3 linked regions of the Homo sapiens genome follow. The gene in region 3 interacts genetically with the main gene of each other region. Each region holds a gene or a part of one and is shown on either strand. Other genes may lie near its edges. The genes, in order: TRNAU1AP, CEP295 and LUC7L3.

Evidence for each region.
Region 1: changes in LUC7L3 (region 3) and TRNAU1AP together harm fitness more than expected from each alone (negative genetic interaction), as found in Homo sapiens cells (one large-scale study listed by BioGRID).
Region 2: changes in LUC7L3 (region 3) and CEP295 together harm fitness more than expected from each alone (negative genetic interaction), as found in Homo sapiens cells (one large-scale study listed by BioGRID).

Annotation. Positions count from the first base shown.
Region 1 is NC_000001.11:28,562,929-28,566,654, forward strand, and holds part of TRNAU1AP (tRNA selenocysteine 1-associated protein 1), read left to right. Parts: intron 1-1,774; coding exon 1,775-1,906; intron 1,907-3,726. UniProt on the Homo sapiens protein: Involved in the early steps of selenocysteine biosynthesis and tRNA(Sec) charging to the later steps resulting in the cotranslational incorporation of selenocysteine into selenoproteins. Stabilizes the SECISBP2, EEFSEC and tRNA(Sec) complex.
Region 2 is NC_000011.10:93,724,025-93,727,750, forward strand, and holds part of CEP295 (centrosomal protein of 295 kDa), read left to right. Parts: intron 1-229; coding exon 230-351; intron 352-1,626; coding exon 1,627-1,807; intron 1,808-2,951; coding exon 2,952-3,613; intron 3,614-3,726. UniProt on the Homo sapiens protein: Centriole-enriched microtubule-binding protein involved in centriole biogenesis.
Region 3 is NC_000017.11:50,718,469-50,722,402, reverse strand, and holds the start of LUC7L3 (luc7-like protein 3), read right to left. Parts: upstream 2,801-3,934; 5' UTR 2,671-2,800; coding exon 2,572-2,670; intron 1-2,571. UniProt on the Homo sapiens protein: Binds cAMP regulatory element DNA sequence. May play a role in RNA splicing.

The sequences.
Region 1 (3,726 bases), on a different chromosome or scaffold from region 3:
TCTGTTGCCCAAGCTGGAGTGCAGTGGCATGATCTTGGCTCACTGCAATCTTTGCCGCCTGGGTCCAAGCAATTCTCCTGCCTCAGCCTCCCAAGTAGCTGGGATTACAGGCACCTGCCAATGCGCCCAGCTAATTTTTATATTTTTAGTAGAGATGGGGTTTCACCATCTTGGTCAGGCTGGTTTTGAACTCTTGACCTTGTGATCCACCTGCTTCGGTCTCCCAAAGTGCTGGGATTACAGGCATGAGCCACTGCGCCTGGCCTTGTGTATTCTTATTATACAAGGAATATGTATAATATGTATAATCATACCTGAAATAAGATAATAACAAAGGTAGGCCGGGTGCGGTGGCTCACGCCTGTAATCCCAGCACTTTGGGAGGCTGAGACGGGCAGATCACAAGGTCAGGAGTTTGAGGCCAGCCTGACCAACATAGAGAAACCCCGTCTCTACTAAAAATACAAAAATTGGCTGGGCGTGGTGGCTTACACCTGTAATCCCGGCACTTTGGGAGGCCGAGGAGGGTGGATCACCTGCGGTCGGGAGTTCGAGATCAGCCTGGCCAACATGGTGAAACCCCGTCTCTACTAAAAATACAAAAAATTAGTTGGGCGTAGTGGCGGGCACCTGTAATCCCAGCTACTCAGGAGGCTGAGGCAAGAGAATCGCTTGAACCTGAGAAGCAGAGGTTGCAGTGAGCTGAGATTGCGCCACTTCACTCCAGCTTAGGGGACAGAGCGAGACTCCGTCTCAAAAAAAAAAAAAAGGAAATTAGCTGGATGTAGTGGCATGTGCCTGTAGTCCCAGCCACTTGGGCGGCTGAGGCAAGAGAATCGCTTAAACCCAGAAGGCAGAGGTTGCAGTGAGCCGAGATCACGCCACTGCACTCCAGCCTAGGTGACAGAGTGATACTCCATTTCAACAAAAAGAAAAAAAAAATAACAAAGGTTTGTGTGTTCGTTTATTTTTTTAATAGAATTGACCTCCTATAATAGGAGTTGGTAAACTTTGGCCTGATTTGTATCACCCACAAGCTCGCAGTGGTTTAAGAGGTTGGGTATGGTAGCTCACACCTGTAATCCCAGCACTTTGGGAGGCTGAGGCAGGTGGATCATTTGAGGTCAGGAATTTGAGACCAGCGTGGCCAACTTGGCGAAACCCCGTCTCTGCTAAAAATACAAAAGATTAGCTGGGCGTGGTGGTGCGCACCTGTTATCCCAGCTGGTCGGCAGGCTAAGGTGTGAGAATCACTTGAACCTGGGAGACAGAAGTTGAAGTGACCCCAGATCACACCACTGCACTCCAGCCTGGGCAACGAGCAAAACTCCATCTCAGAAAAAAAGATTGGGGATTTAATTTTCGCTAGGCTTTACGTCCTTAGAAGATAAGATCTAGTTCTTTTTTTTCTGTCTTTTAACATTTATGTTTAAAATATACAAGGAATGCAGAATGCATTATTATGCTGTTTTTATGCAGTTTTATCTTTTGAGTGCCTTAGATGCACTTCTGACCCCATCCACACATCTGCACTCATGTAATACTTGAAGTCAGACAAGTTCTGTGGAGTGGGTGAGGGATTTGGGGCAGGGACTATTTCCCTAACTCTTCTGCCAGGACTGCTCTGATGAAACAAAGTAGGGGCTGGTTAAGTAGACCCATCAAATGTTTTCCTTAAGGGGCCTGGGAGAGGTTTACCTGGAATATGCAAAAGAGCTTTTCAGAGCAGAGGTTTTGGTCTTTGCCTCTGAATCTTCTTGTTCTCTCTCCTCAGCCCTGAGTATTCCCTCTTTGTGGGGGACCTGACCCCGGACGTGGATGATGGCATGCTGTATGAATTCTTCGTCAAAGTCTACCCCTCCTGTCGGGGAGGCAAGGTGGTTTTGGACCAGACAGGCGTGTCTAAGTAAGGCCTTACTTGTTACTGATGCTTAACTGTGTTAGTTTCAGCCTTTCTCTCCTGAGTGGAGGTGTTTTAGAAAGGCCCTGCAGCATGGCGATTAAGACCACAAGCTCTGGAGCCAAACTGCCTGGTTCAAATCCCAGCTCCAATACAGGTGAGGGAGAATGCCAGTATTGTAGAATTGAAGCTCTGTGACCCTTACAGCCCCATCTGTAAAATGGAGCTGATTAATAATAGCTGCTTGTAGGGTTGATGTAAGGATTAAAGGATATAATATAAGTAAGTCACATTTGAAATGCTTTATAGGTGTTTGCTGTTTTGCTTGTTATTGTTACTGAGCCTTTCAGTGTAGTTAGAAGTGTTCCACTTCAGGCTGGGCGTGGTGGCTCATGCCTGTAATCCTAACACTTTGAGAGGCCCAGGTGGGTGGATTGCGTGAGCTTAGGAGTTGGAGACCAGCCCGGGCAACACGGTGAAATGCCGTCTCTATTAAAATACAAAAAATTAGCCGGATGTGGTGGTGTGCACCTGTAGTCCCAGCTACTTGGGAGGCTGAGGTAGGATAATTGCTTTAACCTGGAAGGCGGAGGTTGCAATGAGCCAAGATTGTGCCACTGCACTCCAGCCTGGGCAACAGAGCCAGACTCTGTCTCCATAAAAAAAAAAAAAAAGTTGGCCCGGCATGGTGGCTCACACCTGTAATCCCAGCACTTTGGGAAGCTGAGGTGGATGGATCACCTGAGGTCAGGACTTTGAAACCAGCCTGGCTAACATGGCAAAACCCCATCTCTACTAAAAAAATACAAAAGTTAGCCGGGCATGGTGGCATGCGCCTGTAGTCCCAGCTACTCGGGAGGCTGAGGCAGAATTGCTTGAATCCGGGAGGCAGAGGTTGCAGTGAGCTGAGATCACACAACTGTGCTCCAGCCTGGGTAACAGAGCAAGATTCTGTCTCAAATAAAAAAAAAAAGAAAAAATGGAAATCGAAGAACCTCAAGAAAGGCTCATTCTTGGTCAGTATGGTAGTTATATGCTCAGGCTTTGAGAGTGCAACAGGTGTGGCTTTGAATCATGCTTCTGCCATGACTTTGGGCAAGTTGTTAAATCTCACTGAACTGGTTACCTCTTCAGTAAATGTGGATACCACTTTCATGGAATTATTAGACAGTTTGATTAGATCACCCTGAGAAAATGCTCAGCACAGGCTGGGTGCGGTGGCTCACGCCTGTAATCCCAGCGCTTCGGGAGACAGGCGGGTGGATCACCTGAGGTCAGGAGTTCAAGACTAGCCTGGCCAACATGGTGAAACCCTGTCTCTACTAAAAATACAAAAATTAACCAGGCATGGTGGTGCGTGCCTGTAGTCACAGCTGCTCGGGAGGCTGAAGCAGAAGAATCGCTTCAACCTGGGAGGCCGAGGTTGCAGTGAGCCAAGATCGTGCCAGTGCATTCCAGCCTGGGAGACACAGCGAGACTCCATCTCAAAAAAAAAAAAAAAAAGAAGAGCCGGGCGTGGTGGCTGACACTTGTAATCCCAGCACTTTGGGAGGCTGAAGCAGATGGATCACCTGAGGTCAGGAGTTCGAGACCAGTCTGGCCAACATAGCGAAACCCAGGTCTCCACTTTAAAAAAAATACAGGCCAGGCGTGGTGGCTCATGCCTGTAATCCCAGCACTTTGGGAGGCCGAGGCGGGTGGATCATGAGGTCAGAAGATCGAGACCATCCTGGCTAACACGGTGAAACCCTGTCTCTACTAAAAAAATAAAATACAAAAAATCAGCTGGGCATGGTGGTGGGTGCCTGTAGTCCCAGCTACTCTGG
Region 2 (3,726 bases), on a different chromosome or scaffold from region 3:
GTCACTGAGAGGATCCATATTTTGGACCTTTGAAATAATCATGATAGGACTTAACTTTAAAGCATCTGCTGATCATGGGGGAAAAACTGAAGTTTTTGTTACACTGGAGTTACCTGAAAATAAGCGTTTATGAATATGTTCTTAATACTCCTTTTCTAGTGTTTACCTTAAAAATAAATTTATGATTTTTTTCCCTCAAAAATTCTAACAGTTGACCTTGACTTTCCAGAATTGGAACACATTTTTCCTAATTTGCATCATCAGCTGTTTAAACCCTTAGAACCACATCCAGATTTTGACTTATCATCATCATCCTCTGGGATTTCTCCAGACAACAGAGACTTTTACCAGGTATATTAAAGTAGATGTCCCATTGCAGTGAATATCTAAAAATAGTTTTAAGCCATTTCTTCTACTGGAACAAAAGTTCTTCTAAACCCTTACCTAGAATCACATGGAAGTCTGGGCACAGTGGCTCACACCTGTAATCCCAGCACTTTGAGAGCCCAAGGCGGGCAGATTACTTGAGGCCAAGAGTTCGAGACCAGCCTGGCCAACATGGCAAAACCCTGTCTCTACTGAAAATACAAAAATTAGCCAGGTGTCGTGGTGCGCACCTGTAGTCCCAGCTACTCGGGAGGCTGAGGTGGGAGGACCACTTGAGCCCAGGAGGTGGAGGCTGCAGTGAGCTGAGATCGTGCCACTACACTCCAGTCTGGGTGACAGAGCCAGACCCTGTCTTTAAAAAAAGAAACAAACAAACAAACAAAAAGAATCACATGGAAAACTTAAATAAAAAATAAAAATAAATCCTATTGTCCAGACTACACCCTAGACCAATTAAAGCAGAGTTTCTGGGAGTGCTCAGATAGTACTAATTATTATTATTATTTTTTAAGCTCCCCAAGTGATTCTAATGTGGAACCAACTTTGAAAACAGCTGCATTGGGCCGGGTGCGGTGGCTCATGCCTGTAATCCCAGCACTTTGGGAGTCTGAGGCAGGTGGATTGCTTGAGGCCAGGAGTTTGAGATCAGCCTGGCCAACATGGTGAAATCCCATCTCTACTAAAAAACACAAAAATTAGTTGGGTGTGATGGCATGCCTGTAGTCCCAGCTACTCGGGAGGCTGAGAACCGCTTGAACCTGGGAGGCAGAGGTTGCAGTGAGCCGAGATCGTGCCACTGCACTCCAGCCTGGACAACATAGTGAGACCCCATCTCAAAAAAAAAAAAAGGAAAACAGCTACATTAGAATTTTGTTTGTCCCATCCACCTGTCTCCACCTAGGGAGTATGATGCCATAAAAGGCTTAATAACAACTTTTAGTTGTGGAACATATTTAAACAGTAAAGTAAATACAATTTTGCAAAATTTAAAGTATCCTCCTACACAGTCAAAGGAGCTGAGATTTAAACCTGAGTCTTTTTGCTTCCACTTCCTGATGGCCTGACATTTTAAAGTCTCTTTCATATTGATTGAAAAGAACTGGATTTGAAAAAGCAAATCATTGCTGTCATAGTGAAGTGATAATTAAGGAAGAGTAATACCAAAGGAACACAATGATTATTGTTTCAATTGTTAATACCTAATCAGTATTTCAGCCTTTCCCTTTTGTTTCCTGCCAGAGATCAGATTCTTCATCTGAAAGCCACTGTGCTACTGGATTATCCAAAAGTACAGTTTATTTCACAGCACTGAGGAGGACCAGCATGCATTCTTCTCTTAACACAAGTCCGAATCAACAACCTGACACTAACTTGGCTCATGTTGGAGCTCACAGTTTTGCTACAGAAAATATTATTGGGGGTATGTATGACTAAGTTAGAAAAAGTTAATTTTTCCATGATTTTTTACATCCATTTCCTTAGAAATTAAGCCTAGCACCTCTTGGTTTGTCTTCACCCCTGCTCTCACCCCTATCCTGGGTGTTAAAAAATATTTAAATTACAGAAGTAATACATGCATTTTTTTAAACAATACTGAACATTATGAAATAAAAGGAAAAGTGTTGCCTCTTGTTCCTCAATTTCCCTACCTCAATCATTATGTGATAGTTAACAGTTTAAGTATTATTTTTTTGTTTGTTTTTTTTGTTTTTGTTTTTGTTTTTATTTTGTTTTTGAAGACTGAGTTTCACTCTTGTTGCCCAGGCTGGAGTGCAGTGGTGCAATCTTGGCTCACTGCAACCTCCGCCTGCTGGGTTCAAGTGATTCTCCTGCCTCACTCAGCCTCCCAAGTAGCTGGGATTACAGGCATGTGCCACCACACCCAGCTAATTTTCTATTTTTAGTATAGACAGGGTTTCACTATGTTGGTCAGGCTGGTCTAGAACTCCCGACCTCAGATGATCCACTCGTCTTGGCCTCCCAAAGTGCTGGGATTACAGGTGTGAGCCACCATGCCCAGCCAGTTTAAGTATTCTTCTTAGGCCAAGTATAGTGGCTCACGCCTGTAATCCTAGCACTTTGGGAAGCTGCGGCAGGAGGATCCCTGGAGCCCAGGAGTTCAAGACCAGCCTGGGCAACATAGAAAACAAGTATTCTTGAGCCTTTGGTACAAATGATTATATATACACACAAACATACATGAGATACACAAGGATGTACAAATTATATATACACACATGGATAATTGAGATACACATGGATGCTTTATTCTCTTTTCTGTTATTAAAGTCATATTCAGTTCTTATAGAGGAAAACATCCTCAGTTTATAGCCATATTGTCCTTATTAAATATTAATAGAAAAAGAAAAAATACTTGGTGTGAGCTGTAGTTTGAGAAATCACTGTGACCATCCTTATCTTTGTATTCATGTTTATACACATCAACTTTTATGCCTAAAATTGTAGGTTACTTGCAATTGGATGATAAACTATTAGAGACTGTCAGTATCCAACTTTTACAACATGTAACGATGATTAACTGATTTTTGAATTTCTTAATGCAGGATCTGAACAATGTTTTGAACAGCTTCAGCCAGAATATTCTTCACAGGAGGAGAGCCAGCATGCTGATCTACCAAGTATTTTTAGCATTGAAGCAAGAGATTCTTCCCAAGGCATGAAAAATCAGAACTATCCCTCTGAAGAACATACTGAAATATTACAAAACAAGAAAAAAATTGTTCATTTCCAGCTTTCTATAGGAAACTTAAGTTCAGTCTACAGTTCATCTGATGAAGCTAATGTATTTGATCAGTTAAATGTACAGCATAGCACTCCATGTGGTTCTAACTCTAGTGAGTGCTCAACAAAACACCAACTAGAAAGCAGAAAGGAAAGTATGGGCTTTGAAGAACTATCAAAAAGAGGGGTTGTTACAATGTTACAAAGTCAAGGACTCATTGAAGATAATAAAAATGAAACCTGTAGGGTTTTAGACATAAATCCACAGGTAGAGGAAACTGACTCTCGATTATGTGTAAGAACAGTGGAGATGGGAACTTCAATTCAGGCACCATATTCCTTAACTACTCAAAATGAAAAATATTTTGAGAATTCAGCTGAAACAGACATTCCAAAAATCACCAAAAAACTATCTCAACTAGGAGAATCAGAGCTTTTTGCAAGTTCTGGATCATTTTCATTACAGAGCTCTATACCAGTCTGGGTAAGTGAAATCAGTGTTGTATAAATAACATTTAAATTCCTTTTTGGGAAAAAACTTTTTTCTTCTAAAATTAGAGATGAAGTTCCCACTATGCTACCCAGGCTGAACTCAAA
Region 3 (3,934 bases):
AACATGGTGAAACCCCATCTCTATTAAAAATATAAAAATTAGCTGGGCGTGGTGGAGGGCGCCTGTAGTTCCAGCTACTGGGGAGGCTGAAGCAGGAGAATCGCTTGAACCCGGGAGGCGGAGGGTGCAATGAGCCAAAATCACGCCATTGCACTCCAGCCTGGGAGACAGAGCAAGACGCCGTCTCAAAAAAAAAAAAAAAAAAAAAAAAGAATGCATAAGAGGAGCCATAAAAAATGCAGATACTGGGACCCTTCCCCAAGACAGACAGAATCTGACTCTCTGGGAAGGGGAGTTGAAGGGGTTGAAGTACAGAAATATGCATTTAAAACAAATTCCACAGGTCAAATACAGCTATCTAGGGACTACCTTTAATACTAGGTAAAGTTAGCATTTTGACTGTTAAATACTTACAGATGCCACGGCAACTGTCTTTTAATTAATGGTTGCTTCCTTTCCTTATTTTGGTATTTATCTCTATTCCAAAAAAAAAAACAAGGGCCCCATCCAGCTGAAATGGCTTCTTCCATTTAATGCAAGTATGGCCAAGAAAAATTTCCAGATAGAACAGGAATGCAAAAATATGTTAAAATATTAGGCTATAGAAAAGGTGACTCCTTTTCAGCATATAATGGGTTTGCCCATCCCTGCAGGTTTAGCACTAACAGCCAACAGTACAAGAATATGCAGATGACCCGGAAACGATATCAACAGCTTCCCCAGCTTCATTATACAATAATTCCACCTATTTAGATGAGACCATGTGCTTTGTTTTTGCTCAACACTACCAACATTTTCCCTGCAGATATCAATCTGAAATGCCAGTAACTGACTTGAAATCCTTCAATCTAGAGTGAAGTGCAATCTGTCATTAAGGCATTAAATACTTTAGTAATAAACACTGAAAGTTAAAATTAGTGAAAAGTACTAAAACTGAAAGCAAAGCAGATTACGGCTGAGATGACATAAAACCTAAATTGCTATTCTGAGGGCCTCATCATTGAAGAGTCATAAACCCATCACATACAATGCAATGTGGCAACAAATTACCCCGGGAAAGAAAACAGTTTCTCTAAAACGTGTTCAAAGTCAAGGGTGCAGAGATACAAGGCTGTTCCAACTGATAAGGAGTGCAATGGAAAGCATTTTTCTCTTGAATTCAAAATATACAAATAACCTATTGAACATAAGCCAAATCGCCATAATGTTTTGGTTTTTTACCTTACTTAGGATTTTGAGCGTTATTCCTAACACATTTGCAAAGTTTAGACTGAAAGGTTACAGAGTCAGGTAGTTAAAAAAAAAAAAAGTTACTTCGCTATAACAAAGATGCCTACAAAAGAAAGATGGTCAAGGTAAGCAGTTCCTTAGTCTCCTATTGTGACAAATGGTCGGGGGGATGGGGAGCCTAAATGTTAAAAACAAAAAACCCACCTCTTAAAAACAATAAATTCTACTCTAAGAATGTTTCATACTACTTTGGAATCAGTTAGCACCCCAACACAACTTGAGCCAAACTTACTCTTTCTTAAAGTCCTAAAAGGAGTCATCTAGCACCAACTTGCTTTCCTACACTGCAAAAAAGAAATTTTACCTTAACCAAAGCCTACGTTTAAAAAGAGTAAGAAAACAGTTTTCTAAAGAAGCATGCATTACCTGAACTATTCCTTCCTATTTTGATTAGCAATTGTTTTAAAATTAGCATGTTAGATTATAACCTCAAAGTAAAATTAAATTCTGTATCTATTCTCCAGATAAGACCTAAAGTAAACATTACACTGCATGTTCAAAACTAGATCAAAACACTTGAAATGCTACAGTAGGTGCAGAGAACCAGTTTCATAGGATTGTGGAAAGCTAACAGAACTACAAAGATTAGTTTCCTCAGTTGCCAAGACTTTGGGTGAGCCTTTTTAAGTCTCACCAGTGAAACTGGGGTTATAATATTTACCTTTACTCCCCGGGCTAAGAGCATCAAATGAGTTTTATGTGGAAGAAAAAACCTTGACAGCTGCCTCTATAAGGGACTTCTTAGAATACTGTTAACGAACAATACTTGTAAATCATCACGGTAAACCCTAACAAGTAAACGACTTCTTTTACATTTCTATTTCCCCGTATAAGCGTCATGCTGTAATTACTTAAATAAAATACCGCCACGATTTTTACCATGAATCCTGGTCAGAAATTTTAGTCTAAATACGACGTTCAACCCAAACTATAGAAAAATGTGCCCTTCTCCCTATTTCATAATGAGGTGAAACCTCGGAGCCGCTAGATTTAATAAGACGCTGCTATCCTTCTTTCCCGCGTTTCCCCGCCTCATCAAGGTGCTTTTCAATTATGCCAAGGGCTCTCCCGGACCCCCTTGATACTAGAACAACAAAACCAAATCACCCCCATCCCCGGGTCCGGACAGCATCCTCCCTCCTGGCTCCATGGGCACCGGGTCAGACGCTCGACCCCGGGTGCGGCCCTGGCCACATCGCGCCGCGGCCAGGAGGGCCACAGCCCGCGCCCGCTCCCCTCCCCCACGGAGCCCGGGCTCAGGCCAAGGCCCGCGGGACTTACGCTCTCGTGGTCCCACCGCACGTTGCTGCGCTTCTCGTCCGGGGCTAGGTTTCGGTCCCGGCCCATTAACTCATCCAACAACTGCGCGGCCGAAATCATGGTGCTTCCTTCGGGCGGCTGTTCCCACCAGCCCAGGCACCCGCCAACGAAAACACGGGCGACACCGTCGCCAATCTCCTCGGCCCGCTCTCAGGCCGAAATCCCTCCTACACACAGGAGCCGACAAGACAAAATGGCCGCCGCGCGGACGCCTTCCCAGCATGCCGTGCGCCCGTGGGACACGCCCAGGCCCGGGCGGAGAGGGCGAGCTCGGCTTCCGCCGTCCGGGGGCGGGGCCCGCGGAGGCCGGGTAGGGACTCCGCCCCTGTCTAGAGGCCGCGGGGACGGGTAGCCTCTGCCCGCGCGCCTCCCCAAGCGCCCGGTTTTCCCGAGCTTCTTCACGGTGAGAAATTGGAGCCTAGGTCTTGAAGCCTGGACACCGCTTCAAAATGGAGAAAGTGTCTCCTTTAGTCCACGTGGTGCACATGGTGCCTCATGCAGCGGAGGAAACTGAAGATTACGGCTTCCGACTCCATTTTCCTAGTCGCTGTGCTCACGCCTCTTGCACCTGGCTTTGTCCTCCCGCCCTGAGTCTCCTGATTAACAGGATGGGAAATCGAGGCAAGAAGAGACAAGGCGGCTTCTAAAATACGGGGATTCAGTCCTACACCAAATGTCTCCCAGTGTGGAATTTTTTAAAAAGATATTGATCCAGTAGGCCAGGTGAGGTGGCTCACGCCTGTAATCACAGCACTTTGGGAGGCCGAAGCGGGCGGATCACCTGAGGTCGGGAGTTCGAGATCAGCCTGACCAACATGGAGAAACCCCGTCTCCACTAAAAATACAAAATTAGGTTGGCGTGGTGGCGCATGCCTGTAATCCCAACTACTCAGGGGGCTGAGGCTGGAGAATCGCTTGAACCCGGGAGGCGGAGGTCGCGGTGAGCCGAGATCGCGCCATTGCACTCCAGTCTGGACAACAAGAGCAAAACTCCATCTCAAAAAAAAAAAAAAAAAAAAAAAAAATATATATATATATATATATATATATACACACACACACACACACACACATACACACACACACACACACATATATATAGATAGGTAGATCCATTTATTCAACAAATGGTATGTGCCAGGCACTGTGCTTAAAGCTAAACTCAGAACCTTTCAGACAGTCCATGCTCCCGCAGACCTGTGCATTGGCGAGGGGAGATAATCGCTGAAGAAATAAAGTCACAAATATATCAACGTATGTTGGGATAATGCTTTAGCACAGTTAAGGGTATGGTCTCTAAAGCCAGATTGCCTGGGTTCGTAAT